Regions from separate parts of the Homo sapiens genome. Here regions 2, 3, 4 and 5 are each linked to region 1. Evidence: fine-mapped expression QTL. A gene starts in region 1. Each other region holds a variant in brackets. All regions are shown on one strand. Distances are from middle to middle.

Region 1 (4,502 bases):
CAAAGTGGGGGCTTCTGGGTTATAGGTAGATTTAAAAATGTTCTGATTGGCAATTAGTTGAGAGTTATTACCAATAGAAAGGAATGTCTGGGTTATAAGAGGTTGTGGAGACCAAAGTTTTATCAGCAGAAGAAGCCTTGGGGTAGCAGGCTTCAGAGAGAATAGATGGTGTTTCTCATTAGACTTAAGGTCTGTGTTGGCTTTCCCTGAATTCCAAAAGGGAGGAGGGCATAGTCAGCCATGTCCCACCCGCCCCCACTTCATGTCGTGGCCTGAACGGTTTTCAGGTTAATTTGGAGTGCCCTGGCCCAGAGAAGGGGTCCATTCAGATGGGGTGGGGCCTTAGAATTTTACTTTTGGTTTACAACTTTATGAAGAGACCATTAGAAACCACTTGAATTCACATCATGAAAAAAAATCCACACTGTAAAAAAGGTTTGTAGATTAACACATTAGGTGAATGCCAAAGCCACAGAATATCTAAATTTCTCTGAGGAATTTGAAAACTCTCAGGTATATGCCTTGTGGACAAGAGAGACAGAAAAATGGGACAGAGGATGAGATAGTTTGGAGAATGGATAGCTGATCAGATCTGTAGCTGTGCCCAGAGTGCTGAATAATGGATTTGCGTCCACAGGGAAGAAAGTCTCAGGTGCCACTGATAAAAGACCACGTCCTTGGCTCTGGGTCCATTCAACATCTTGGTAGACAACTGAGTGAAAATTCAGAGACAACCCTAGGAAGTATGAGGATGAAAAAAGTTAGCATTCATGGAATGAGGCACTGAAGAAACTGAAAAGCTGAAATAACCCCATGAAATAATGAGAATAATTGTAGTATTCTGAACCGGGGCACAGGACACAGGACCGGGGTGGAAGGCGGCACGAGACTACGCGCGTGGGAAAGACCCAGGGATCACAGTGGCCCAAAGCTGGGCACTTCCCAATTCCGGGATTTGTGCTACAGGCACTCCAGGCTCCACCTTAGAACTGTGTCCAGCACGAAGGCAGTGCTGTCTTGCGGGAGGCAGGGCTGCACCACCACCGGGGTGTGAAGGGGCCCAGCAGGCAGGGGTGTGAAGGGGCCCAGCAGTGTTTCCAGCTGCACGGGGTCAGGGGCCGCGCTGATGCAGAGCACGGGGGCGCAGGTTAAACCTAAAGGAGGGAAGCTTTTGGGGGCGGAACAGACAACCGAGAATGCTGCACACTGCCTTTCCCACCCGAATTGTGTTTTGACTTTTTTTTTTTTTTTTTTTTGAGACAGAGTTTTGCACTTGTTGCCCAGGCCTGGAGTGCAATGGCCCGATCTCGGATCACTGCAACCTCCTCCTCCCGGTTTCAAGCAATTCTCCTGCCTCAGCCTCCCGAGTAGCTGGGATTACAGGTGTGCACCATCACGCCCGGTTAGTTTTGTATTTTTAGTAGATACGGGGTGTCTCCCAATTGGCCAAGGCTGGTCTCGAACTCCCGACTTCAGGTAATCCACTGGCCTTGGCCTCCCAAAGTGCTGGGATTACAGGCGTGAGCCACCGCGCCCGGCCTGCTTTTGCTTTCTTTTTTTTTTTTTTTTTTTTGGCAGAGTCTCGCTGTCCACCCCTGTAGTGCAGTGAGCTCGGCTCCCTGCGGCCTTGACCTCCCGGGCTCAGGCAATCCTCCCGCCTCAGCCCACGGAGTAGATGGGACCACAGGAGCCCACCACGCCCGACTACTTTTTGTAATTTTTGTAGGGATGGGGTCTATCCATGCTGCCCAGGCTGGTCCGAACTGCTGGGCTCAAGAGCTCCGCCCGCCTCCGCCTCCCAAAGGGCAGGGATCACAGGTGTGAGCTACCGCGCCCCGCCCAGAGTTTCCGACTGTTAGCAAATCACATTCACCTCAAAACTATTTATACAAGAACTGAAAGGCAAACTAAGTCCGTGCTCCATCACTTCCTGTCCCAGGTCGCGGGGCCGGACATTTTCTCCAAGCGCTTTCCTGGCACAGCGCGCAGGCGGCCTGCGCCAAAGCTCTGGCTTCCTCCAGGCGCCCAGACCCCGCCCTCCCCGCAGGCGCCAGGGCGTTGCCTGGCAACTTAGCTGCGAGGGGATTGGCTGCGCGGGACCCCGTGACCATCCCGGAGACCACGCATTTCCTGCGCCCCCGGAAGTGGTGATAATGCCAGGCCCTGCCCCCGGCAGAGGCGGAAGCGGAGTCGGCCTGAGAGGTCTCTCGTCGCTGCAGGCGCCTCAGCCCAGCCGCGTGCCTTGGCCCATGGCCGCCTACTCTTACCGCCCCGGCCCTGGGGCCGGCCCTGGGCCTGCTGCAGGCGCGGCGCTGCCGGACCAGAGCTTCCTGTGGAACGTTTTCCAGAGGTGCGGCCTGGCACCGCCCGGGCACCTCCCGCCTCCGCCGCGGCGGCCCCGACCCCTGTCCCGACTCCCCCGACCAACCCCGTTCCCTGCCGGTTCTACTGCGGCCTCCTCCGTCCCCTGTCGGGTCCCCCGCGGCCCCCTCCCGTCCCCTGCCGCCGCCCCCGACCCCTGCCCCAGCCGACGCGGCCGCCCCCGTCCCCTGGCGGGTCCCCCGCGGTCTCCCCCGTCCGCTGCCCGGTCTCCTGGGGCCGCCCCTGCCTCCTGCCCGGTCCCTGTCCTGTGCGTCGGGCCCTTCCCAAGATGCAGAGTGCGCCACTGCAGACCCGAGGTCGCGGCCACCGGCTCCTGGGCTAGGCCCTTTTTCTCGCCTCAAGAGCCGCCAGGTGGAGGGTCTCCAGGGTGCTTGTTTGGGGAAAGCGGAAACAGACTGCCTGGGCGCTGTTAAAATGTCAGCAGCCAAGGAAGAAGCAGCGACCTGGCGTCTGCTCGGGCCAGGTGACCTTTATGGCGGCGCCTTCTGTCCCTGGTCGCTTTTCCACCGAATGTCCGAAACTGTAGTGACTGATGGCCAGGGAATGGCTTAGTTATCTGAGGGAATCTTGTCTTGTCTGTGAAAAAGGGAAACGGGTGCAAATGGGAATTCAGACAGGCCAGGAGAGGAAGGAAGGGAAGGATTGAGGTGAAGATGATTGTCCTCTTAGGGGAAGACCACACTGGACGTCGGCTCCTGGGGCACTTCCTTGATTCCGCTGTACTCCTCAGCGGGACGGGAGAGGCGGAGGTTCCAGGAGGGAGCCTTCCAGAGTCGGTGCAGGGTTGACAGAAGACGTTTGTTTTGCTTTTCCTGAACTTTCGATCGCCAGCTTATTTGGTCTTCTTGATGTTATAGGGTCGATAAAGACAGGAGTGGAGTGATATCAGACACCGAGCTTCAGCAAGCTCTCTCCAACGGTGAGTGGGCCAGTGGGAACTGGGTCTCCGGACCAAGAAGCCGCGAGCCTGCCCTGTTCACAGTGGATAACTTTCTGAAGTTGTTTTTCCAAGGACAAAGGAATCATTAGGACAAATTGTTATTACTGCTTCGTAGTGGAGATGCTTCTGGTTTATTTTGTGGCTACCGCTGTTACTGCTTGGAGTGCCTCACCGAGCCAGCTAACAACTGCGTGCGTGAGCACAGGGAAAGGCTTCTTGAGAAATGAAAACTAGATTGTAGGTTTAGGAGGGGAATAGGAAGCTTAGCTCTGTACAGCCGAAAGCCTTTTGGTAAGTTGGAGGTCCTTGAATTTCCTGGGTGACTGCATCTTGGTGACTTCTCTGAATAGACCTTCGAGGGCACTGGGGGGTGATTGTTGGAGGGCTTGGGGAGCTCAGGCAGCCCTTGTATGGGAATGTGGCTGTTACAGGAACTGCAGAAACTGGGACTGGGTTCCTGGGGAAAGGATTGGGGGTGTTGGAGGCGCTGGCCAGGGGATTATGGGGAGGTGTTCTTATCAGTGTGCGAATACTGGGCGTTCAGGCAGCGGGAAATCCGGGTCCTTGCGTGTTGTGAGCTCCCTGGAATTACGTTCTTGCCAGTTTCAGCTCAGTTGATCCCCCTCCCCTCCGCTATCATTGGACACATTTTACTTCATTGAAACCTGACTGCCACTTTTTCTGTAATCCCTCAGGGGCAGTCATCTTTTCTGATTCTGTGTATAGTTTGCTTTTCCAGATCCGTGCCATTTAAGCTAGAAAAGGGGTCAGTTTTGAGATGTTGTGAAAATGTTGAAAGGCTTCTTGTTATTAGTGGGAAGTATCTGAAGTTGCCAGAGACTGAACTGGGGCGCGGGGAGCACTACGGCTGCTAGACACTGCCTCACTGCGCTGTGGGTGGGGGGGTGCTGGATTCAGCCTTACTGCCTAATGATTTGTGAGGATTTGTGTTTTCAGAGTAACATTTTTACCTTATATTACGACATCAGTTCCTAATATGTGGCGTGTGGGCCACAGATGCTGGTGTATTATTTCACATGCATTTCTATAGATTGTTTTCAGGGAATTCAGAAATGCTGTTATCTCTACACTAGTGATTGTGCTTTCTTGGTTTTTCTCTTTTCATTATTCTTAAATCCTCGTTTTTTTTTTTTTTATTTGCATCTCAGTTCGTTTTTAC
Region 2 (4,502 bases), 28 kb after region 1:
CTTTAATGGCTAGGAAAATATTCTTAAAAAGAGATCTCAAGCACAGGTGAATCTAACAAATGACAAATTTATTTCTTTACATAGATAAATATAAGGTTAGATCCACGTAAATAAATGAAGCCATTAAGGGTAGAGTCCCACAGACCACAGCGTCCAGCTCTGCTATCGATATCAGGGAGTAATTTCCAGGCACACAGAACTGACCCAGCATCCAGCTCTGCTCATGATTTCAGGGGTAATTCCCAGGCACGGGTCGAGCTGGAGAAGCTGGGGGCCCCCATAGCCCCACTGTCCTTCCTGCCTCATGGGGTCTCTGAGGGGTGCCTGGAACATTTCCTCTTGGGCTTTGAAGATCATTTCACTTAAACACATTTTCCAGGTGCCATGGACCTGAGCCCAGAAACTTCACGGTACCAGGACCACCCGAGACAGTGGCTCCCCAGGAGTGAGCACCAGGCACTGTCAGGGGTTCTCTCCCCAGCACATTTACAAGGACATGATGGGTTCTTCTTCCTGCAGAGCAATCCCAGTGGGAAGAAGGAGGGGACGGGAGGCCTGGCAAACTCTCCTCCCCAGCTCCGTTCCAAGCTCTGTGGGGCTCCGGCAGGCCCCATGTCATGTGCAGATGAGGGATTAGGGTTCCTCCCGGCCTCGCTGCTCTCAGGCCCTCAAGGGCTCCTCTCACCACCCCCGTGCAGCCAGCGGACCCTGCCCCCACCCAGCTGCTCCCCCCAGCTGCTCCCACTCAGCTGCTCCCACTCAGCTGCTCCCACTCAGCTGCTCCCACTCAGCTGCTCCCACCCAGCTGCTCCCACCCAGCTGCTCCCCCCAGCTGCTCACCCCCAACTGCTCCCCCCCAGCTGCTCCCCCCCAGCTGCTCCCCCAGCTGCTCCCCCCTAGCTGCTCCCCCCCAGCTGCTCCCCCGCAGCTGCTCCCCCCAGCTGCTCCCCCAGCTGCTCCCACTCAGCTGTTCTCACCCAGCTGCTCTCACCCAGCTGTTCCCCCCAGCTGCTCCCCCTCAGCTACTCCCACCCAGCTGCTCCCCACTAGCTGCTCCCCCCAGCTACTCCCACCCAGCTGCTCCCCACTAGCTGCTCCTCCCCAGCTGCTCCCCCCCAGCCGCTCCCCCCAGCTGCTCCCCCCAGCTGCTCCCCCCCAGCTGTTCTCACCCAGCTGCTCCCCCCCAGCTGCTCCCCCCCAGCTGCTCCCCCCCAGCTGCTCTCACCCAGCTGCTCCCCCCCAACTGCTCCCCCCAGCTGTTCTCACCCAGTTGCTCCCCACAAGCTGTTCCCCCCAGCTGCTCCCCCCAGCTGTTCCCCCTCCGCTGCTCCCCCCCAGCTGTTCCCCCCCAGCTGTTCTCAGGTTTCTCATCCTTCCTGGATGACGCCCTACCTGGGGCACCCGTTCCTGTGGCATCCCCAGTCCTGCACTGCAGCACTCAAACCCCGTCACCTCCCTGGCGAGACCATGCTGGAACCGTGATCAGCCCATCGGTTTCATCCATTATCCTCCTAGCCCAATTTCTGTGCTGATCTCTCGTTCCCAAAACATCTTGGAATTATAAGAAATTAACTTTTTTCAAGTCTCTGTGCTTCTGAAGCTGTACTTTTAAGAAATAATTCTTACGTTCTTTTGAAGGTTTTTTTTTTTTCTTTAAGACAGAGTCTCACTTTGTCGCCCAGGCTGGAGTCCAGTGGTGCAATCTCAGCTCACTGCAAGCTCCACCTCCCGGGTTCACGCCATTCTCCTGCCTCAGCCCCCCGAGTAGCTGGGACTACAGGCACACGCCGCCATGCCTGGCTAATTTTTTGTATTTTTAGTAGAGATGGGGTTTCACCATATTAGCCAGGATGGTCTCGATCTCCTCACCTGGTGATCCGCCCGCCTTGGCCTCCCAAAGTGCTGGGATTACAGGCGCCAGCCACCGCGCCCAGCTGGTATTTTTTTTTTTATTTTTTTATCAAATACAGTTGAGGCTCTCTTGGAGATCACATATTAAAGAGAACTGAGAAAAATCAGACCTCAGAAGCAGTACAGTGCCCTGTAAAGTACATGTCCAGTCCCATCACTGTCCTTCTCTCACATGGGCCCAGGGATGTGGGTGATGGTATTTATTGCCCCTGGTGATGGAGCAGATTTGATCTGCCTATGTGGGAAGGGGTTAACTCAGCGGGTGTGGATTGCTCAAACCCTGCACGTTCCCAGGAGGGGCCCTTGGCTGGCTCC[T/C]GGGAGCTGAGCTCCTGCAGTGTTCTGACTGATGAGAGAGACTTGAGCCATGTTGCACTACTTTGCCTGGGTAGTTGACCAACAAGGTGATGGATGGCAAACACCTGCTTTCGCTGTGGGTGGCTGGAACTTCCCTGACTGACCCCCAGGTTCAGGAGAGCCTCCCTGGTCCGCACCACGGCACTAGCTGTCCCAGCTTCTTGCTGGAGGAATCCGGCGCACCCTGTGTGACTCCGCTGGGAGGGACTCTGGAAGCGCCTGGCTTCCCTGGCAGCCCTTTCCCTTGGCTGGTTTACTCTGTACCCTTTCAAGTTGGAGGGTGGTCTCAGGGACCCCCATGCAGTCTTTCGTGCTTTCACCAGAAACTCACCTTGGCAGGGCTTCAGGGGAAGGCTTGGGATTTGGTGACAAGTGACTCCATGGCCTTGGGCAAAGCACAGCATCTACTTAGGTTTTCAGGCGGTTGCCCAGGTATGTCTAGCACCTAATGTAACCGAGGCGTGAAATGCCTGTGCGCCACGGTGCTTCAGCTCGTTACGGGCCGTTAGGCCTTGTGGTGGTTCTCTCTTGGTTTCTGTGGAGAAGCCAGACCCCGCTGTGGTTGGCAAGGAAGGCGAGTGGAGACATCAGGAGTGTCCATCCCTCAGCGGCCCTTTCTAGTGGGGTGGCTGCCTCTCTCATCCTTGATTAATCCCGGGACAACCTCTGCTCTCCTGGGCAATCCTTAGAATACTCCAGAAGACCCCAGTATGGCCGTCCGGTTCCTCCTGGGCCCCAGCTCTCAGGAATGCACCATCACGGCACACTCCATGCGTGCCCGTCCAGATGGCACCTGAGCCTCCCTGTGCCTGCGCTGCGGCGTTAACATCTCGCTTGTGTTTTAACCTGTGTTGCTTTGGTTTAAAACTTGTTTGACCGTGTTATTTGCTGAGATGGCCCAGAGAAGCTTCTGCTTATGATCAGGACACGTCACAGTGCAGCCTTCACTTGAGGACTTAGGTCTCATCCAGCTCCACACAGTCAATCCAGGGCCACGGACGCAGAAGACAGAGGAGAAGAAGCTCATGGCATGAAGACAGAGGATTGATTGCCCAGGAGGCTTCCAGGGGCTTTGGCTCCTGGGGCTTCTGTCAGCGCTGGGTCAGAGCAGGTCACCCTTGTGTGCAGACACTAGGTTGCCGCACACAGCGGTGAAGAACGGGGGAGACCAGATGGAATTGGGTGAGGCAGGGATGCTCCTTGGTGTTTAGAGTTTTCCTCTTTCTTTGCCTTGTGGGTTTTCTGTAGCCTATCTTTGCTTTTTGTAACACTAGTTTTCAGTAATTCCGACCTTTCTGAATACCTCTATATACATATACCTGTCTACTCTCCTTTCAGATACTTGTAAAGCCTACAGAAAGGTAATCCTGCAGATTATCACTCTATTCAGCTTAACAGATGCTCGTCGAGTGCTGCTGTGTGTGTATGCCTCAGGTTCAGGTGCACCTGCCTTTGTGGGGAGAGCACAGCTTCCCTGCATAACTGCTGGAGGGTGGGTCGTCGAGTGCTGCTGTGTGTGTGGGCCTCAGGTTCAGGTGCACCTGCCTTTGTGGGGAGAGCACAGCTTCCCTGCATAACTGCTGGAGGGTGGGTCGTGGAGTGCTGCTCTGTGTGTATGCCTCGGGTTCAGGTGCACCTGCCTTTGTGGGAAGAGCACAGCTTCTCTGCATAACTGCTGGAGGGTGGGTCGTCCAGTGCTGCTGTGTGTGTATGCCTCAGGTTCAGGTGCACCTGCCTTTGTGGGAAGAGCACAGCTTCCCTGCATAACTGCTGGAGGGCGGGTCATCGAGTGCTGCTGTGTGTGTATGCCTCGGGTTCAGGTGCACCTGCCTTTGTGGGAAGAGCACAGCTTCCCTGCATAACTGCTGGAGGGCGGATCATTGAGTGCTGCTCTGTGTGTGTGTGTGTGTGTGTGTGTGTGTGTGTGTGTGCCTTGGGTTCAGGTGCACCTGCCTTTGTGGGAATAGCACAGCTTCCCTGCATAACTGCTGGAGGGCGGGTCGTGGAGTGCTGCTGTGTGTGTGTGTGTGTGTGTATGCCTCGGGTTCAGGTGCACCTGCCTTTGTGGTAAGAGCACAGCTTCCCTGCATAACTGCTGGAGGGCGGGTCATCGAGTGCTGCTGTGTGTGTGGGCCTCAGGTTCAGGTGCACCTGCCTTTGTGGGAAGGGCACAGCTTCCCTGCATAACTGCTGGAGGGTGGGTCGTGGAGTGCTGCTCTGTGTGTATGCCTCAGGTT
Region 3 (4,502 bases), 36 kb after region 1:
CTCTGCGGAGCCCTTACCCTGGGGTGCAGCTCACCCAGCATCCTTCCCTGCTGGTGTGTGGTGCGCAGTGGGTCCTGCACGCAACAGCATCGTCCACACACACTGCACACATCGTGGAATGGTCGTATGAAAAACAGCCCCTGGTCCACACACCACACACGTCGTGGAACGGTGCACGTCGTGGAACGGTTGTGTGAAAAACAGCCACTGGTTGCACACAGGGTTGTGGACTGTTGGGAAGAAACATCGATGCTGTTTCTCACATGATTTTTCATCCTGTGGATTTTCATTTAATTGTAACATATTTCTGATCAAACCAGGAGTAGTCTTATTGCAGTCCTGTATTAACCTCTGTTCTTGAAAAGAGACCACGTGATTTATCATTTTCTCTGCAGCAGTAATTCACACTGAATTTTTCTATGTTTTTTAGCCATATTGCAACTACATATAAAGGTAGTTATAGATTCTTTTGTATTTGGACCTGGAGTTAGACTGAAAGCAAATAGGACATAGGCGAGGGTCTGTTTCTAATTAAAGCAGGTTTTCCTGACAGGGCTGTTCCAAGACTCCACCAGTGCTGTGGGCCCTGGAGAGTCAGAGGGTCAGCTCTGGGAATTAGATTCGCGTTCTAGGCCGAGACCCAGGAGCCAGGGGAGCTGGGGCCACTTACCTTCCCCGTGCCTCGGAAGCTGAGTGTGAAGCTCTGCTCTTCTTTCTGTCGTGGCTGCGGCTGGATTTCCTCACACATCCCATTGCACGGCCTGCCTCACAGCTGCAAGTGCACCTTCTCCTGGGACTTAGGGGGTCAGGGCTGGGGGACAATCCCCCACACCCCCACCCAGGGCGAAGGTGACAAGACTTTAAGGGATTTCACCCCATTCACAGACAGGCATGCATTGCCCAGTCCCTGGTTAGTGGTCAGCAGTGGGGCCCCGCCAGGCTCTGAGGGCTGAGGTCTGGTGGGAAGCCTCAAGTGAGTTTGCTGCAACTGATCTTTTGCTGCTTGACCGTTCCTCTCTGTCTCAGCCATGTTTGACCGTGAGAACAAGGCCGGCGTGAACTTCAGCGAGTTCACGGGTGTGTGGAAGTACATCACGGACTGGCAGAACGTCTTCCGCACGTACGACCGGGACAACTCCGGGATGATCGATAAGAACGAGCTGAAGCAGGCCCTCTCAGGTTTCGGTAACTCACTCACTCTGGCTTGTGTAGCGTGTTTCATTTTGGAACCTTGGAGCCGTTGAAGTTCTTTAAACCTTGTTGGACTTAACTGATTGTCTAACCAGGCTACGTAAAGTTTTTGTTGACGTCATGCAGGTTCATATTTGATATTGCTCATGTCGGAAGGCGATCCTCGACATGGATACGTTTATTCAGGTTTTTATCCAAAATGAGATAAGGGCTATGCAAGCCGTTCATCTTTTCTGAAGTGGAATGATGTCGTGAGCAAAACTGAGAATGTGGCTTTTGAAATCATTTAAAAGTGGATCCATGAAAATACCGTGGGGCAGGGCAGCTTATATTTCATGATAGATCAAAGCACGTTGAAAAGGCAACAGTCACCTAAGAAACAGCTGTCAGTCACCAGGTCCAAACCGTGCGCCTCAGAAGGGGCGTTAGGCAGAACGCGTGCCCATTCTCAGGTGTGCTCGGCGTGTGTGTGCTCGGCGTGTGTGTGCTCGGCGTGTGTGTGCACACGTGTGCCGTGCGCCTCAGAAGGGGCGTTAGGCAGAACGCGTGCCCATTCTCAGGTGTGCTCGGCGTGTGTGTGCTCGGCGTGTGTGTGCACACGTGTGCCGTGCGCCTCAGAAGGGGCGTTAGGCAGAACGCGTGCCCATTCTCAGGTGCGCTCAGCGTGTGTGTGCTTGACGCGTGTGCACACACACATGTGACGGTGTGCCGTGGGTCTAGGAGTGTTCACAGTGCCTGTCCAGAGTGCGTCCATAGGGC[C/T]TGTCCACGGGGCTTCCCGTGCTGCTCTCAGGGCTGAGAGGAAGCAGGGGTTTTATTTACAGAGGAACAACGGGCATGTTTGGGGCCAGCCTGAGGCTGTTGGTGGCTGCACCGAGATTCTAATCCATGCGGATCTCATCTGGCCCCTGTTGTGAAGCCGCTTCCGTGATTTGCTTAAAAGGCTCCTTAGAAACAGTGAGGAAAATTCGATTCTACTTGAGTACCTCCGAGATCCCTGGAGTCTCACTTATCTAAGCACGTCGCCTCTCCTCGTGTTTCCTCCCAGCATGCACTTTGTGGCTGCCTTTCTTTCTCTTTTCTTTCTCACCTTACGAGCTTGTCCACAGGGCCGGGGGTGGACACTGGGTCTCCTCAAGAAGCAGTTCTGAGCTGACCAGCTGCGAGCCAGGATTTGGGCTGGATGGCTCTGAATTGGTACTTGGAATGCAGCTGACCTTGCTGTGCCCTTGGGTGGGGGAACTGGAGGGAACGCTGGCCGGCTCCTCTTCCCTGGGGCAGGTACGGAAGGGCTGGGAGGGAAGGATGCCACCCTCCACAGAGAGTGGTCCTGGGGGCCAGGGAGGCCAGTGCTGCCGATTGCGGCCAGGGCCACGTGGACTTCAGGACCGGCCTGAAGTTATTTTTAGATAAGCGACCTCTGGCGCCACGGACATCTTTTCCTAACCTTGTCAGGCCCTGGAGCTCCCTTTGTCCATGCCAGTGACCATCGGTCCTCAGAATGTGCAGTGGAAGTTGCTGTGGACAGTGCTCCCTGGTCTCTGAGGCCCTCTTCGTCCTGGTCTGGCCAAGGACTTCCCAGAAAACTGTGCTTAGCTGTGGCGGGAGGCACGGCCGGTCACGCAGCCTTCCTCCCGCCCTGGAGTGGGCAGGCCTGCTTGTGTTGTGCAGCGGCAGAACCCTTCCTGACTTCCAGGTTTTTCCTGGGGTGCGGCATCCCATCGCAGCATTTTCTCTGGTTACCCTCACGAGTTTCCTCCTGCGTTTGGTTCTTGATCTCCAGGGCCATCTCCCACGTCTTCCTTGGAAAGGGGCATTGTCATCCTTTTTGTATTTTGATGATTTTGAAAGATTTCCCATAGTAACTGTTAGGAAGTTGGCCTCAGAAGCAAAAATTCTTCTTTTGTCTTGGCCCCTGTGAACAAGTGTTCTGCTCTCAGATGAAGCAGGGAGGCTGCACTGGAGCTTGGTGGCCAGCAGGAGGGAATCACCAGGGTGGTGAAGCCTGCGAGATTTCTCCCCGGGTGTCTCTGATGGGGCCACATGGTGGATTTCATAATCCACCGATTCGTTTTTTTAAGCCTTTATTGTTAACATCAACTGTGTGCCATGCTCAGAGACCTGAAGTGAAAAGGTGAGGAAGGCGTGCTCACATTCCAGCACTCACCACCCGGCACCGGGACAGCTGACTCAGCACGTGCCGTTTAGGTTGCTGTAAACAGCCGGTGAGATTCTCCCCTCTGGTGGGCAGTGCGTGTCTGACAAAGGCAGTCGGGCGGAGAACAGTTCCTCCGCTGTGGTCCTTTGCCACTGTACCAGGCCCCCAAGAGCTGGGGGGAGCCCCAGGGAGCCTCAGCCTGTTGAGTGGGGGCAGCTGGTTTGTCCTCCGAGGTGGAAGAGGTGATTTCTGAGGAGGTCATGCTCCGCTTGGCTCGTTCACAGCATTTCAGAGAGTCCGAAAGAGGAGAAAGACCTTGGCAAGGGGTGTGTCAGGGGTGGGCCCAGGGACGCTGGTGGCCTCATGTGGACTGACTTTCATGAACAGAAACTCAGAAACAGTTGCTTCTGGATTTTGGCTTCTCAGATAAACATTCTTTTTGTAGTTCGTTTGTTCATCCCTCATTTTGCTGTCTGACTTTGCCTTTCTTTTCCCTTCACTATTACTGATGACCAAGGAAACTGGAAGTTAATTCCAGAGGCAGTGGGGTTGCTCCTGTTGTCTGTGCAGACTGGAGTTCCTCTGCCTCTGTCAGCATCTCCTCTGTCCTTCCCCAGCCTTGGCAGGAGACCAGTAATGACCTCTGTCCCCGTGCACCCCAGTGATGGCCGCCGTCCCCGTGCACCCCAGTGATGGCCGCCGTCCCCGTGCACACCAGTGAGGGCCGCCGTCCCCGTGCACACCAGTGAGGGCCGCCGTCCCCGTGCACCCCAGTGAGGGCCGCCGTCCCCGTGCACCCCAGTGATGGCCGCCGTCCCCGTGCACCCCAGTGATGGCCGCCGTCCCCGTGCACCCCAGTGATGGCCGCCGTCCCCGTGCACCCCAGTGATGGCCGCCGTCCCCGTGCACCCCAGTGATGGCCGCCGTCCCCGTGCACCCCAGTGATGGCCGCCGTCCCCGTGCACCCCAGTGATGGCCGCCGTCCCCGTGCACCCCAGTGATGGCCGCCGTCCCCGTGCACCCCAGTGATGGCCGCCGTCCCCGTGCACACCAGTGATGGCCGCCGTGCCCGTGCACCCCAGTGATGGCCGCCGTCCCCGTGCACACCAGTGATGGCCTCTGTCCCCCATGCACTCCCAGACAGGCAATGTCCCTG
Region 4 (4,502 bases), 48 kb after region 1:
CCTCAGGCGCCTGCAGGGAGGCCACCCACGCCTTCCTGGGTGAGGGAAGCCCCTGAGCTAAACCTCACTGCACTCTGAGGCCCCAAGGGCCAGGCAGCTGCACACAGCCTGGGCCACGTGGGGGCAGTGCGGCTGCACCACGGAGCTCTCGGGAGCTGCTGACTGACCGGGAGGACCTGCCCGACACAGCCATGGGATTTATAGCCGCAGAGAGAAGACTACAGAGAGACGGGCCTTCGCCCTTTCAGCTCTCCCTTGTCAGGCAGGCTGTGCCCTGTGACCCTTCAGAGCCTGGGTTTGGGGGTGGAGGGGGTGGACAGCTGACCAGGTGCCTGGCGCAGGCCCAGTGTGGTGAGGCTGGGTCGCGGAGGCCAGGCCAGGCCAGCGGCCACGACCACCCACCAGGGACCCTCAGCGTCACGACCCCGGTCCCAAGACCCAAGACAGCAGGACATGGGGGCACAGCCATCTCTGGGGGCCTCTCCTTCCCCCCGCTCTGGGTCCTCAGTCATCAGTGCAGACATGGAGGTGCAGGTGCACGCCGTACACCCTCACCTGGGGCCCCTGGCCCATGCCTCCCCACCCTCCCTACCCTGATCTCCCCCCACAACCCTACACCTCCCCGGACAACCCTGCACCTCCCCCAACAGCCACCCTGCACCTCCCCGCCACAACCCTGCACCTCCCCCAACAACCCTTCAACTCCCCTCTCACCTTGCACCTGCCCCTCACCCTGCACCTCCCCCCATCCTGTACCTCCCCCCTTCACCCTCCACCTACTCCCAACCCTGCATCTCCCCCCAACCCTGCACCTCCCCACATCCTTCACCTCCCTCCTCACCTGGCACCTCCCCCCATCCTTTCCCTCCCCCAATCCTTCACCTCCCCCCTCCCTTCATCTCCCCCCTCACCCTCCACCTCCCCCCCGCACCCTGCACCTCCCACCCTTACCCTGCACCTCTCCCCATCTTTTACCTCCCTCCCACCCTGCATCTCCCCCCAACCCTGCACCTCCCCCCATCCTTTATTTCCCCCCACCCTGCATCTCCCCCCAACCCTGCACCTCCCCCCATCCTTTACCTCCCCCCACCCTGCATCTCCCCCCAACCCTGCACCTCCCCCAATCCTTCACCTCCCCCCTCACCCTCCACCTCCCCCCCTCACCCTGCGGCAAGCAGAGAGCTGACTCCAGCACAGTGAACTTGGAATGATGGAATGCACCCTGGAAGCAGCTCTGACGGGCGCCACCGTGACTGTGCCCAGCAGGGAGCTCCCTTGTGGTTTTTAACAAAAGACAAAATTCCCCAGGTCCTTCTCTGTGCTACAGGAGAAACTGGTGTGGGAGAGGGAACCCAGGCGTGACCAGGGAGAAACTGGTGTGGGAGAGAGAGGGAACCCAGGCGTGACCAGGGCTGCCCAAGCGGCTCCCTGTGAGGCATCAACGCTGGAGACACAGCAGTCATGGGGAACCCGGGGAACCCGGGAAACCCAGCCGCCATCAGAGAGCCAGAGAGCCGCAGGCGCCTGTGCGGGGTCCTGGCCTGGCCCGAGGGGTCAGCACACCCCTGTCTGCCTCTGAGGTCAGGGCCCTGGGGGCTCCTGACCTGGCCTGCCTGTGGGAGGCAAAGGTGTGGCCAGGAGAGGACAGGAGGGGGCAGTCACAGTCACCACTCCTGGAGGCCCATGAAGAGCAGCTTTGCCCCCACACTTCTGTGAAGCCAACTTGGGCCTGTTTGGGAGGGGCCTGGCGCTGCAGCCGGCCGTGGGCACCTGCCATGTGGCGGTCCACTGGAGGCCAAGTCCAGCTCATATGGCTCTGGGGACCCACCGCACCAGACTCCAGTGTGGGG[G/A]TACCCGGAGCTGGGGGTGGGTCCTCGGAGGCTTCCAGTCCTGCCCCAGCTGCCATCCCTGCCAGGTGTTAGCGCCTCTGGTTCAGAGTCCCGAGAGGACCAGTGGCCCAGGAGAAAGGGGTGTGTCTCCAGCTGCTGGGAGTGTGGGTGGGAGCCAGAGGGTTCAATGACACTGGGGACAGCAAGTCCGGACTGGAGGGAGGAGACCTCCTGAACAGGGTCCCCAGCACAGAGGCAGAAAGGAGACTCTGTGACTGGGGGTGTCAGCTGCATCTGGACCTTCGTGGTGGGGAGGGAGGCACGCCCAATAGCCCGTCTGAACGGGAGGTGGCTCAGGGATCCCCCATTGTGCTGGTGGGGTGCCCAGAGACTCCAGGACTCCACGTGGGGCTCTGCCTGCTAAACCCTGAGACTTTAGGGGCAGTGGCTCCCACGGCAGGGTCATCCTTTTTCTGCACAGTCCCACTGGCTGCCCCAGGTCCTGCAGAGACCTGAGACTTTGGGGACAAGCACAGGGGACAGGTGGGCGTGGATGGCCTGTGCCGGTCAAGGGCAGTGGGAAGGAAGGAGGAGCAGTTTCCTTCTGTACCCAGGAAATAGAGTAACAAAGTGTCTCATTCCAGTTGGTTCTGGTGGGACAGGGTAGGTGGAAGGGAACCCGTGCTTGCCCTGAGACATGGGGGTGCTGTCTTCCCATGCAGGGGGACTGCGGCTCACCACCATCACATTCTACCCACAGGTTCTTATTTTAACAGATCACAAAGGTACTATGTGCTTCTTGCAAAAATTTACAGGAATTGTAGACTTTTCAAAAAGTAAAAAGAAATTAAAGTTCACCTGTTACCTCAGAGTTATCCAGCTACACATTTTCTGTGCATAATTCACTTTACAAAAATTGGATCAAGATAAAACTAATGATTTTTAAAAATACAGCAATATAGTTGCACATTGTTCCATATCAAAAAATAAATGTGTGCACCCAGGGCTCCTGGCTGTCTCAGTGGCATAGTGGCTCATGCCTGTAATCCCAACACTTTGGCAAGCCGAGGTGGGTGGATCACCTGAGGTCAGGAGTTCGAGACCAGCCTGGCCAAGATGGCAAAACCACTATCTACTTAAAAAAAAAAAAAAATTAGCCAGGTGTGGTGGCGCGCGACTGTAATCCCAGCTACTTGGGAGGCTGAGGCACGAGAATCGCTTGAGCCCTGGAGGCAGAGGCTGCAGTGAACTGAGATCGCACCACTGCTCTCAGGCCTGGGTGACAAAGCAAGACTCTGTCCCAAAAAAGCCCATTTACTCAGCTCACATTTTTGAGCCTCTGCTATTCGACAGGAACCAGAGGTGAGCAGAGCCGACTTGGTGACCCCTGGGGACAGAGCGGCAGAACTCAGCAATTCTGGGCTGCCCTGCAGGAGCTACACCCGGGGAGGGGCGGTGGCCACTTGGGGGCAGGGTGGGCTTCTCAGCTGCGCCCACCCCACCTTGGGAGCTGTGTCTGGAAAAGAGACTTTTCCTGAGCCGACAGCAGACAGCGAGTGCAAAGGCCCCAAGGCCCGCACGCCTTATTCAGAGAACAGCAGGAGGCGCGGGGCGGGTTGGGGGCGTCAGGGAGACGGGGTTTGACTGAGAACCTGGGGGCGCCAGTGACAGCCTCGGCCGCGTTGCTGAAAACCGACCTTGCGGGATGAAGAGGGCGCGGTTCCCCCGGCTGGGATGAGGACCGCGGATGCTGAGGAGCGGACTCCAGGGACCACCGACTCCATGGCCGGCCCCAGCGAGGGCGAGAACGGGTGGAAGCCGGCCAGGGTCTGTGGAGACGTCAGGGTGCGAGGCCAGGCTGAGGTGTCCCCAGGGATCCCCTGAGGGTACAGGGAATTCAGCCAGGGCCTGCGCGCCCGGACGGAGGACTAGAGGGGGCCAAGGACCACCGGGAGGGGGAAGGAGAAGGCGCAGCCCGAGGTCGGAGGGGCCGGCGGGCGCGCAGAGGGCGCGGGGTGAGCCCTAAGGACCTGCAGGCAGGACCCTGCTCTCGGCCGCGCGGTCCCGGGTGCCGACCGGCGGGGTGGGCGGGGCAGGGGCACCCAGGGCCGCACACCTGCCGCGTGGGACCCTGAAATGCCCAGGACGAAGAACGTCGCACGGACGACCCTGCCGTGCCTGGCGCGCGTCCGCTTCCTGGGAAGCTCAGGATCCAAAAGCATCTTAATATTCTCTATAATTCGCCAAAAACCATGACTCCTTTTACATTTTCGAAACGACCTCATGGGGCAGGCGAGGGGGCACACGCTCTCCTCACTTTACCTGTTCGGGTCTACACCGCCCGGCTCTAGGGCCGGCAGCTCAGCACAGCCGGCCGCGAGCGCTGGGGAGGGGACGGGGGCGCAGGGAGAACCGGGGGACCCTGGGCGCACACAGACCCCAGGGGGAACGCAGGGCCTGGAGGGGCTCAGCGCGCGACCCCCGCCTCGGGGCACGGAGACTCCGGGGGATCACTGGGACGCGAAGGGCGCAGGGCGGACCCCAGGGGAACCGGATGGCGTCTCCGGTTCGCCAGGGCAGCTGGGGCAGCCGGACCCGAGACAGCCGGACCCGCGGGCGCCCTCTGCCGCCTCCCGGCCCTGGATGCTGCGGGGCGGGGCGGGCGGCTCGCGT
Region 5 (4,502 bases), 42 kb after region 1:
TTGGAAATGGCACAGAGCAGCCCATCTGCAAGACGTGGTTTTTCAGTATCCGGTGGGTTATTTACATGTATGTTCTGGTGTTGTGGTTTTTTTTGTTTTTTGTTTTGTTTTGTTTTGTTTTGAGACCGAGTCTCGCTCTGTCACCCAGACGGGAGTGCAGTGGCACGATCCCGGCTCACTCCCACCTCTGCGTCCCGGGTTTAAGCAATTCTCCTGCCTCAGCCTCCCCAGTAGCTGGGATTACAGGTGACACCCAGCTAATTTTTGTATTTTTAGTAGAGACGGGATTTTGCCATGTTGGCCAGGCTGATCTCAAACTCCTGACCTCAAGTAATCCGCCCACCTTAGCCTCCCAAAGTGCTAGGATTACAGACATGAGCCACCATGCCTGGCCAACTATGGTGTATTTTTACAAAAACTTTTATTCTGAGAAAATGGGCACGTTTTCTGTTGTGGTCATCACTGTGTCCTGCCGTCTGTGTGTGAGGTCAGCTGTGGAGCCTGTGGTCGCTCAGGCCGCCCTCAGTGGGGTCTCCGAGCTCTTCCCGTGCACTCCAGTGTCTGCAGGAGCTGGTAATGCACCCTGACCTGCAAGGCAAGCTCCTTGGTGGTGTCTCTCCTGCTGGGCTCTCTTTGAGACCCACGGGAGATGGAGAGCAGGGCTCAGGGGACCCGCCTGGGAGCTCCACACAGACCTCTGCTGCTGTTTGCAGGTGGTGATCCAGGTCTCTACCCAGGTTCCTCAAGGTCCTGTCTTGTTGGCCTTGGAATTCAGTGAGAGATAGGAACAGCATGGGGTTTTTAGAAATAATGTGGAAATTTGGAAAACGTTCCCAAATTGTTTATTCTGTATAATAATTAAGATGCTAGATCTGTAAAAGTGAGTTTCCTCTGATTTGGCATGGATGCATCAGTCCCTGTTCTTCAGGGATTTGTTGGAGAACCAGGTCTGTGAACATGGAAGCTTCAAAACTCTACGGTTGGGGACCCTTTCCTGCCCCTGCCTCTCGGGGTTCCTGCCAGGTTGGATGACATTTTTACAATGTTCTCTGAACACTTTCAAAAAAGTGTAGGCTGGGCCTGGTGTCGCATGCCTGTAGTCCCAGCTACTCAGGAGGCTGAGGCAGGAGAATCACTTGAACCCGGGAGGTGGAGGTTTCAGTGAGCCGAGATCACACCACTGCACTCCAGCCTGGGTGACAGAGCCAGACCCTGTCTTAAAAAAGAAAGAAAAGAAAAAGGGAAAAGATGCCGTGTAAAATCTCGTTCTGTGTCTGAATTGCCGTAGGGCTCAGATCTTCATTTGAGGTTCTGTGTCTGAATTGCCGTAGGGCTCAGATCTTCATTTGAGGTTATGTTCTATAAGTTAACGTTGATCTTGTGTGAGCTTTCGGTAGCTGGAGTAACACAGGCGGCCTCACAGCGACCTCTCCAGCGCCTTCCAAGGCACATCTGCAGCCAGCGTAGCTCCTCCTGGGAGATGCCTCCTCAAGGCCCTGCTCCAGACCACGTGGGGAGGGCCTGACAGCCAATTCCCAGGCTGTCCCCACCCTTGGAGAGTGACCCTAAACGCTAGACAGATGGGGAATGGGAAAGAAAAGAAAGCTGCAGACCTCAAGTTAAAATTCCCTCAAAAACGTTTTTATTTATCTGCTTTTTCTGAAAGGATAAAGGCTTTTTGAAAATTATTTTCTAACAAATAACATGAACACTTCTAGAAACCCTAGAAAAACACAAAGTATTCAAAATAGAAAGAAAAATTACCCATTACTCTTTAAGCCAGCATTATCCATTGCGGTGCTTTTGGAGTTGGGTGAGGCCGTAGCCTCTGCCAAGTCAAGGAGCCCGGTGGTGGCTGTGGCATTCCTGCAGGGTTGTTTTTTTTTCTTTGAGATGGAGTCTCACTCTTGTCACCCCAGCTGGAATGTGGTGGTGTAAACAGCTCACTGCAGCCTTGACCCTGAGGCTCAAGCGATCCTTCTGCCTTGGCCTCCTGAGTAGCTGGGATCCCAGGCGAGAGTCACCACACCCTGTCCATGTTCCTGCAGGTCTTGATGTGCGAGGACGCTGTGTCTTCCCTGCCACATTTTCTTCTTCTTTCTTGAGACAGACCCTTGCTCCATCACCCAGGCCAGAGTGTGGTGGTGCGAACACGGCTCACTGCAGCCTCGACCCTCAGGCTCAAGCGATCCTCACGCCTCGGACCCCCAAAGTGCTGGGATCACAGGCGAGAGTCACCATGCTGGCCTGAATCTTCAGGGTATTTTACGGTTGAAGTGTCACTTACTTAACCATCCCTGTTTCAGGAGTGTAGGTGGTCACCCTGTCTCTGCCGCTGACCTGGCCTGGACCCTCGGCTGTGAGAGGGAGGGGTGGGCTGGGCTGGAGGAACCTGAAGCCCTCGTGATGTCACAAGCCCATCTGGCTGGGCATCCCCTG[C/CTGTGTCCTGA]GCTGCACATGCCCCAGGTGGCCCCCACAGCAGAGGCGAGCCACTGGAGGGTGGAGGGCTTCCACGGGACGGTCTTCAGGGGGAGAAGGAAGGGCCCAGGCCCCCAGGAGACTCAGGAGACCAGAGCCTGGGGTCAGGGGCTCAGCCAGGGGCTCAGCCAGGGCTGGATGTCCGGAGCCAGCCCCGCAGCCCTGTGTTCTTCGTTCTTCGCACTCCCACCGTCCGTGTGAACAGCTCCAGCCCCACCTGCGCCTCCCTGTGCTGGGCTCCATCAGGGAGCCCAGAAGACGTGTGTGCTTCTGAAATTGGGTCCCTACATGCCTTTGTCCCAGTGCACCTTGCTCCTTCCATTTACTATCGAGATTTAAATGCCTGTTTTCTCCCCAGAGGTTGACGGATATATTCAGACGTTACGACACGGATCAGGACGGCTGGATTCAGGTGTCGTACGAACAGTACCTGTCCATGGTCTTCAGTATCGTATGACCCTGGCCTCTCGTGAAGAGCAGCACAACATGGAAAGAGCCAAAATGTCACAGTTCCTATCTGTGAGGGAATGGAGCACAGGTGCAGTTAGATGCTGTTCTTCCTTTAGATTTTGTCACGTGGGGACCCAGCTGTACATATGTGGATAAGCTGATTAATGGTTTTGCAACTGTAATAGTAGCTGTATCGTTCTAATGCAGACATTGGATTTGGTGACTGTCTCATTGTGCCATGAGGTAAATGTAATGTTTCAGGCATTCTGCTTGCAAAAAAATCTATCATGTGCTTTTCTAGATGTCTCTGGTTCTATAGTGCAAATGCTTTTATTAGCCAATAGGAATTTTAAAATAACATGGAACTTACACAAAAGGCTTTTCATGTGCCTTACTTTTTTAAAAAGGAGTTTATTGTATTCATTGGAATATGTGACGTAAGCAATAAAGGGAATGTTAGACGTGTGGTCTGCCTTCAGCTTTTCAAATCAAATAGGTCCAAGAACCAGGCCCCGTGCCCTGGTCCTCCAGACAGTCAGTGTCAGATGTTCTGGCTTGCCTGGGACCTCCCAGGGTACCGGGCACCTTCTGGAACATTGTCCAGCCCAGCGTGCACAGCTCTGCTTGTGAAAATCCAGAGGGACTGTCTCACCCTCTGTTCAGGAGGTTAAATTTCATAAGACTGCTCCTTTTGGATGAAGAAATCCAATTTGGTATAGCAGGTTGTGCATTTCCATCATTAATGATTTAGCCATGCTGTGCCCTGCAGTCTCTGCACGTGGCCTGCAGCGTTTGTCCACCCAGCGCATCCTGCTCACCTCGGTCCACTGCCAGCGCTGCCCGGTCCGCCTCCCTGCCTCACTGTGCAGCGCCGGCCCTCCTGGGTTGACACTCCCGAGGCCCAGCCTCATTCTCCAGACGCTTCCCTTCCACAGTGATGCGTCTGGTTTTGGGGCTGCAGCCTCTGGTCTCAGAAAGCCTGCTCCTTCCACCCAGTTGTGCACGACTTTTCTCTGTTCGTTTTGGTCTCTTGGGATCTGTTCAAACCTCTGCTCGGTGTGTTGAGGGGTGAGGGGCAGGGAGCATGGTTTCCTGGAAAAAGCCCCCAGTCTCTTAAGCTGGGCAGGTGTGCTGTGGGGGGTGGGGACTGGGGCTGCTTCTGTGCTCCAGATGAGACCTCCCCCACTGCCCAACTGCACTTGGCCTGGGGCCCTCTGGATACGAATCCCTCTGGAGCAGGCACTCCAGGCTCCCTGGGGATGGGAGGGGGAGGGATGTGGGCTTGGGGGTCTGGCTGCTCCCTCATGACCTCAGTCATGGGGATCCCAGGGCAGTCTCTGAGGATCCCCAGCAATCCACGCCGGGTGCCTCCCTAGACCTTGACACCCCCATGACTCTGCAGCAGATGACCCCAAGTTCTACTCCATGAGGTCAACTTCCTTGTCCAGGCCGCAAGCTCCCAATTCCATGAGGCCTTCCTCACCCAGGCCTCCACGGCCAGGCGCCCAGCGACTTCTCCCTCGCCTCATGGGCACCTGGACTCAGTGTCCAGTAGCTGCACCCACCCCACCCTGGGAGCTGCCC

Direction of the effects. Alleles are on the strand shown, and positions count from the first base shown. SD is a standard deviation of normalised expression in the study named. Not every link is listed here.
For the expression in subcutaneous fat of the gene that starts at base 2,175 in region 1, allele A in region 4 goes with a lower level than allele G (small effect, 0.32 SD a copy in GTEx).
With allele C in place of CTGTGTCCTGA in region 5, the expression in tibial nerve of the gene that starts at base 2,175 in region 1 is higher (small effect, 0.31 SD a copy in GTEx).

The links.
Region 2: its variant is fine-mapped to the expression of PDCD6 in whole blood (TOPMed, PIP above 0.99).
Region 3: its variant is fine-mapped to the expression of PDCD6 in whole blood (TOPMed, PIP 0.98).
Region 4: its variant is fine-mapped to the expression of PDCD6 in subcutaneous fat (GTEx, PIP above 0.99). The same link has a PIP of 0.9 or more in lung and monocytes.
Region 5: its variant is fine-mapped to the expression of PDCD6 in tibial nerve (GTEx, PIP above 0.99). The same link has a PIP of 0.9 or more in atrial appendage, breast, coronary artery, esophagus mucosa, pancreas and sigmoid colon.

What each region holds. Positions count from the first base shown.
Region 1 is chr5:269,472-273,973 of GRCh38, forward strand. It overlaps PDCD6 (programmed cell death 6), which reads left to right and starts at 2,175. Exons shown (of 6, transcript NM_013232.4): 1 at 2,175-2,350; 2 at 3,240-3,301. The coding sequence starts at 2,250. PDCD6-DT (PDCD6 divergent transcript) reads right to left here and starts at 2,053. Exons shown (of 2, transcript NR_104613.1): 1 at 1,874-2,053; 2 at 85-736. It overlaps PDCD6-AHRR (PDCD6-AHRR readthrough (NMD candidate)), which reads left to right and starts at 2,175. Exons shown (of 13, transcript NR_165163.2): 1 at 2,175-2,350; 2 at 3,240-3,301. RefSeq lists enhancers at 524-1,216, 1,878-1,967 and a silencer at 2,258-2,467.
Region 2 is chr5:297,913-302,414 of GRCh38, forward strand. The region is part of intron 2 of PDCD6 (programmed cell death 6); the gene reads left to right. The region is part of intron 2 of PDCD6-AHRR (PDCD6-AHRR readthrough (NMD candidate)); the gene reads left to right. Among named protein-coding and RNA genes, the nearest start is that of AHRR, 22 kb to the right of the region's middle. RefSeq lists enhancers at 3,334-3,839, 3,840-4,345. The variant T/C (reference allele first, on the strand shown) is at 2,227.
Region 3 is chr5:305,576-310,077 of GRCh38, forward strand. It overlaps PDCD6 (programmed cell death 6), which reads left to right. Exons shown (of 6, transcript NM_013232.4): 4 at 1,027-1,185. All of the region lies in intron 3 of PDCD6-AHRR (PDCD6-AHRR readthrough (NMD candidate)), which reads left to right. Among named protein-coding and RNA genes, the nearest start is that of AHRR, 14 kb to the right of the region's middle. RefSeq lists an enhancer at 1,218-2,102. The variant C/T (reference allele first, on the strand shown) is at 1,951.
Region 4 is chr5:317,186-321,687 of GRCh38, forward strand. The region is part of intron 3 of PDCD6-AHRR (PDCD6-AHRR readthrough (NMD candidate)); the gene reads left to right. Among named protein-coding and RNA genes, the nearest start is that of AHRR, 2.3 kb to the right of the region's middle. RefSeq lists an enhancer at 1,332-1,631 and silencers at 3,741-4,000, 4,151-4,502. The variant G/A (reference allele first, on the strand shown) is at 1,851.
Region 5 is chr5:311,591-316,092 of GRCh38, forward strand. It overlaps PDCD6 (programmed cell death 6), which reads left to right. Exons shown (of 6, transcript NM_013232.4): 6 at 2,827-3,384. The coding sequence ends at 2,925. The region is part of intron 3 of PDCD6-AHRR (PDCD6-AHRR readthrough (NMD candidate)); the gene reads left to right. Among named protein-coding and RNA genes, the nearest start is that of AHRR, 7.9 kb to the right of the region's middle. The variant C/CTGTGTCCTGA (reference allele first, on the strand shown) is at 2,440.